Linked DNA regions of Homo sapiens: region 2 is linked to region 1. A link means that fine-mapping ties the variant in region 1 to the expression of a gene that starts in the linked region. Tissue or cell type: tibial artery. Region 1 holds a variant in brackets; the other region holds the start of a gene. All regions are shown on one strand. Distances are from middle to middle.

Region 1 (2,684 bases):
CTTCCAGAAAGTTGTGTTGCTCTTCTCTGGACCATCTTCAAGTCTTCTACAAACCAGATGTAGTTTTTGGAAAGATGGCAAAGCCAGTGTGGCGAGGAGGCCATCTCAAAGGTGTTAGGCTTTTGTGTGGCATTAAGGTTACTGTCCTTGCCAAACCTATGGTTTGTCCTCATCCCTAGGTATGGCTTCTGTTCTTTCCATCTATAAAGGTGGGGTGGGTAAACTAGATGAACTCTAATGGAGTTTATAGCTTACCATTATCTTTGGCTGTTTTTCACTGTGAGTGTGTGCTACCATTCCATGAGTTTTAGGTTTATGTATGAAATATCATACATTTGTTTTTCAAAATTATGAATTCAATACAAGCTCAAAGCACCAAACTTGTGAACTTGTTTTTCCACTTTCCCCGTCTCTTTTTTTGTACTGAATTTCACTCTGTTGGAATGTTTCTAAAAGTAAATGTCCTTGCTTTTTGGTTAAGAACTGTGATTCCTGAATGGACCACCTGAATATAACAGGGTGGTATGTCTTAATTAGTGCACTTTCTTTTCCCTCCCCCCGTAACACTAAGCTGAAAGTCTTTACTTTCATAGTTTATCACTTAAATCTTATGGGTTTCAGGCTTTATTAGGACTGCCTCATCAATAAAGTAGTTCAGCCTGGCTTCATTTTAAATATCTTTCCTTTGCTCTTACCTAGCAGAAAAAGCCTTGGAATGAAAACCTGGAAATTTGGAATCCTTCCTCTATTAGTGTGTGATTGTTGTCCAGTTACCTTAAAAAAAATCATACAGCACAGGTGTGCTTGTAAGCCCTTGTCCCCACAATTTGATGATACCATTATTGGTTTGGCTGGATATTTGCTCTTAGTCATCAGTTGTTTCAGTGAGGTGAAGAGGAGGAGGGTGGGGAGGTATTTAGCGGAATAATGGTGTTTAAGATTTACCCAACACCTAAAATATCCAGAAAAAAATCAAGAAACCCAACCCAAACTTTCTCGTTTTCTTTCTAAGAAAACATTAATGTGAAATCGACACTGTGCTAGTTAGTAATTGCACGGTGTGTGTCTCTCTCTTCTATTACCACCATCTAAAAAACACTCACATGCCCTCTCCCAGCTAGGAACCCCCCAAGGTAACTGCTGCTGTGATTTTGTGTTGTGACTATGTGGTCTATGGACTTACACTACAGTAAAATGTGGCTCCAGTTTTGGTGGACTGATCACATCCCAGGATTTAAGTGACTTTGGATCTGTTACTTAATATTCAGGAGTGCTGACCGGGAACACTAGAGGGCCTGAGGAAGAAGTCAGATGTGACATCTGTGGTGGGTCCAAGTTTTATCCTACATTAAAAGAAGTTAGATCCTCCTACCACTGATTTATAGAAGTTGATGTTGGTC[T/G]GGAGCTTGATGCCATGCTGGCGCCATGCTGTCTGCTGGCCTTTCAAAGGGAATTCTGGCCGCCTTAATTTGGCTTCATATTTCTTGGATGACCCATGTGTTTTGGACCGAATACTGTCTGTGAAGCAGAGTTCAGTGGGACCATTTAGCTCTGCGTTACCGGGAAGTGTTGCTGGCCCAGTCCTTACATGATCTGGGTGCTATGTGACCATAACCAGACTTGGGCTTCAGTCCTTGTTAACAAGCTGATGCTTTGAATGGGCCTGGGTCAGTGGTTTGTCTTGAAGTCTGTATACAGTCAACAAAACAGGGCAGTTGCAGAGTGCCTTGACAATCTCCTCATCTAATGAGAAAGCTGCTTCCCCACTGTCTGGAAATATGCAGTCAAACTTGTACCCCCAAGGGATATGGCATAGAACTTATTAAATATAATCTATTACACCATAATATTGTTGGACAGATGAAGTTAGAGGAAGCACTCTACATTTCACACATGAAATCAGACAATGGTGGGGAAGATTTTTATGCTGGCAAATGTAGCATAGAGGACGTTCCTCAGCCTCTAGCACATTGTATGGCAATGAATTATACACTCAGAATATGTGTGAATCAGTGTGTGAATGCATGAACAAATTTAATTCGTAGCTCTCAGATTCTAATACTGCAAATTGTGTTGAAAACTTTCATAGTCTTGGCATTCCTTGCCATTTTCCTCTGCCTGTTATATAGCTAAGATCACCCCAACTATTTTGTAGTTTGAAGCTACAGCATGTTTCTCAACCACTGATATTGAGAAGCCAAAGTCCAGGAGAGCTTTTCCTGGGATTTTAGAGAGGAAAGGAGGATGACCTCCAGTCTGTGCTGAAGACTTAGATGGAAAGAGGGTTATGCCTCTCAACAGCACAGAAAACAGCAAATTATGTTTGAGAATTCAAGAGATGAGTATTCAGCAGTAGCTCACAAATGGAAGTCACCAGTTCAAAATGCAGTACCATATGTGAATCACTGCTAAATTGAACCCTATTGACATATCAAAGAATACATTGTTGTTTGTTTTCAGAAGGTTGTAGAGATTATCGTAGATTTTGAAGGGATACAGGAACAGTTTTCTCTAGGTGTGAAAGGGCACAGCCACTTAAAAGGTGTCAGAAAAACAATATGTGCAGAAGAGCAGTCCTCGGGGAAATCCCAGAGCCTCAGCAGCAATGTGGGAAGACATAAGGACCAAAACAAAAGTCACAAAACAAGACTCTTCCCTACCCTTTTGTATTTGTTTTGGTCCTT
Region 2 (2,684 bases), 100 kb before region 1:
ACATATATTAATTTTAAAAACCTTTTTTTTCCAAGGCAGAGGAATACTTTCTGGCCATACTGTCCAACTGAGTACCTTGCCTGTGACAAGCACCCTCCTCTGTGCCCTTTGTGGTGACAGGTACCTTACATTCCATGGAAGAGAAGGAAGGATGCAGGCGCAATGCCCATTTCTTAGCTCTGAAGCAGTCTAGAGAGCTGAGAGGTTAAAATCCTTACCCCTAAACAGCCTCATACCTATCATCAAACAGCCTTAATCCTTCCTCCCATTTTCCGCTGAGATGGGGGCGGCATCGGAATCCGGTGCCAAGACCGACCGCCTTTAGTTGCGAACACTGACTTTTGTTAAGTAGAGCGGGAGAAATACAGCCATGAGGGATACTTAACCCTCATTCCTACTTTCAAGGAAAACAAACGGTAGCTCTTAGGAAAGCGTTGCCTTTTACACTGGAAAATACACCAAACCACACACCCATACCCGGACCTCTACACGTGGTACAAACTTTTTAAACTCTCTAGCGTGTAGAGTGAGACCGCGAGTGCTTCTGATTATAGGGGTTACACCTAGAAACATAGCTAGCGAGTCAAACAAGGTGGGACAGCGACGTTCGCCTCCCTCTCTCTCGGCTACGGCAACCTGAAGTCGGGTCTGGGCGGCTTCTCCTCCACCCCCAAACGCAGCAGAGCCCAGGACTGGTGCGCTCCTCGGTGAGGCTCAAGGAGTCCTCCTTCCTCGACCTCCTGCTGCCGGCGCTCAGCGGGCCCGGGGTCTGGGGCTGTGGGTGGGCCTGGAGGAGGCCTTCTTCCTAGTGCTCTTGGAGAACGTCCCCCCACTGGACCCCAGGGGCCCCCTACCATGGGAGAAACAGGTGAGCAGGAGCAGATCGGCTGCAGGGGTTAACGCGGGCGCGCCACGCGGCGGCTCAACCTTCGCGCCTTCCTCCTCAGGCGGTAGGGCTGAAGCCCAAGGGGCTGGATCTGAGTCCCGCTTGTACCCGCTGGTGCTCAGCCCCTGCGACCGCCTGGACGCACCCCAGCTCCCCCACTCACCGGCTCCCTCGCTGCCCGCGGGCCCCGGCAGCAGCAGCAGACACACACCTGCGAAGAGAGAAGCGTGAGGGCTGGCTCCAGCCTCCACCCAGCGGAGCAAGGGGCCGGGGTCGTGAGGGGCGCGCACCCACCGAGGCCGAGAGCCGGGATCCAGGCTGCGGACATGGTGACTGATAGGCTGCTCACACCTGGGAGAGAGGGAGAATGCGGGCAAGGCCAGGGTGCGGGAGGCCCCGCGCGTCACCTCCTCAGAGCCCCGCACCCTTCGGATCCCCGGGCGCGGCGCAGAGGAGAGAGGACACAGACGACCCGCTGCTCCAGGCCAGCGCCCCTCTAGGTCTGGGAGGCGCCTCGGCGGCAAATCGAGCGAAGCCCAGGATCGGTGTGCAACCCCGCACCGCGGGGAGGCGGGGGCGCCAAAACGACGACAGACAGGCTGGGAGCGACAAAGAAACAGGGACAGAGGCGTCAGGGATCCCTCGCACCCGCGCCCGCCGCCCGGGGCTCCGCACCTGCTCGAGATCCACCCGGCTGCGCCCGAGTGCGGAAGGCAAGGCCCCCGCGGCCGCTATAAAGGCTGGGCCGTGCGCATGAGCACTGTGCGGGGGGCGCGGGAGGAAGCGCGGGAGCCGGTCCCCCGGGGCCCGGCGGCGACTTCCAGCTCCGCCTTCGCCCCCTGCCGGCCCCGGGGTGAGGCCGGCGCGGAGGCGCCTCCTCCAGCAGCGCAGGCTCGGCCACCTGGACGCGGCGCCAGTCCCTAGAGGGGCACGAAGGTCCCCGTGCCGGCGTCTCAACGAGTGTGGAGGGCCGGCGGCCCCGACGGCGGCAGCAGCGGCCTCGCCAGCCCTGCTCTGCCGGGACCAGGGCTGCTGAGGCAGCGGCGGCCGCTACCCGCCCCACCCAGCGAGGCCTGGAGCTTCTGAGAGCTGTCAGGTCCACGCGGCCTGAGAACCGAACTTCTCAACTTGGTGCTCTCGTGGAAAGAGTTCCTACTTCTGAAATAAAACCACCCTAGGTTTGGTAAACGCATGCCGCGTTTTTGTTAGAAACCCTGTCAACTGACTGCTAGCTCGTTGGACCTTAGGGATTCGGCCTTGCGCCTTCGTTTCTGCTGGAGTCCTACTTTCCCCAGTGGTTCAATTTGTGCTCCTGCCTAGAGCCACGCGTGTGAGACAGCCCTGACCCCAGCAGCCGGTACCTTTGCTTCTTTCTCACCTCAGGAAGAATTTATGCCTGATTGCCTTTCGAAATTCCCAGACTTGGTGTCTTGTGACTGCACAGAATCTCAGATTTGATAATGTGTTCTCCTTCTCCCCGCACCATCCTGCTAACGTTTTACAAATGGAAATGGAGAAGGAGCAGAATTCTTGAGGAGTGTTAGTGACAGGCGACCTGCATGGCAGCGGAAGAACCAGACCCAGGCCCAGACGCTAACCTTTCTGGTACAATATAAACTTTTTCAAATAGCCTTATTTAGTTACAATTTACATGCCATAAAATCCATCCGTTTTGAGTGTACAGTTCAATGATGTTTAGTAAATTTTCAGAGCTGTACAACCATCACCACAAGCCAATTTCAGAACAGGTTCATCCTCCCCAAAATGATCTCCTCGCCATTGTCAGTCAGTCTCTTCT

Which allele goes with the higher level. Alleles are on the strand shown, and positions count from the first base shown. SD is a standard deviation of normalised expression in the study named.
In carriers of allele T in region 1, the expression in tibial artery of the gene that starts at base 1,594 in region 2 tends to be higher than with G alone (small effect, 0.21 SD a copy in GTEx).

The links. PIP is the estimated chance that this variant, and not a neighbour inherited with it, causes the effect.
Region 2: it holds the start of COCH, and the variant in region 1 is fine-mapped to the expression of COCH in tibial artery (GTEx, PIP above 0.99).

The regions. Positions count from the first base shown.
Region 1 is chr14:30,772,362-30,775,045 of GRCh38, reverse strand. No RefSeq gene overlaps it. Among named protein-coding and RNA genes, the nearest start is that of COCH, 100 kb to the left of the region's middle. The variant T/G (reference allele first, on the strand shown) is at 1,401.
Region 2 is chr14:30,873,469-30,876,152 of GRCh38, reverse strand. COCH (cochlin) reads right to left here and starts at 1,594. Exons shown (of 12, transcript NM_004086.3): 1 at 1,562-1,594; 2 at 1,181-1,237; 3 at 1,050-1,097. The coding sequence starts at 1,214. RefSeq lists a silencer at 1,513-2,032.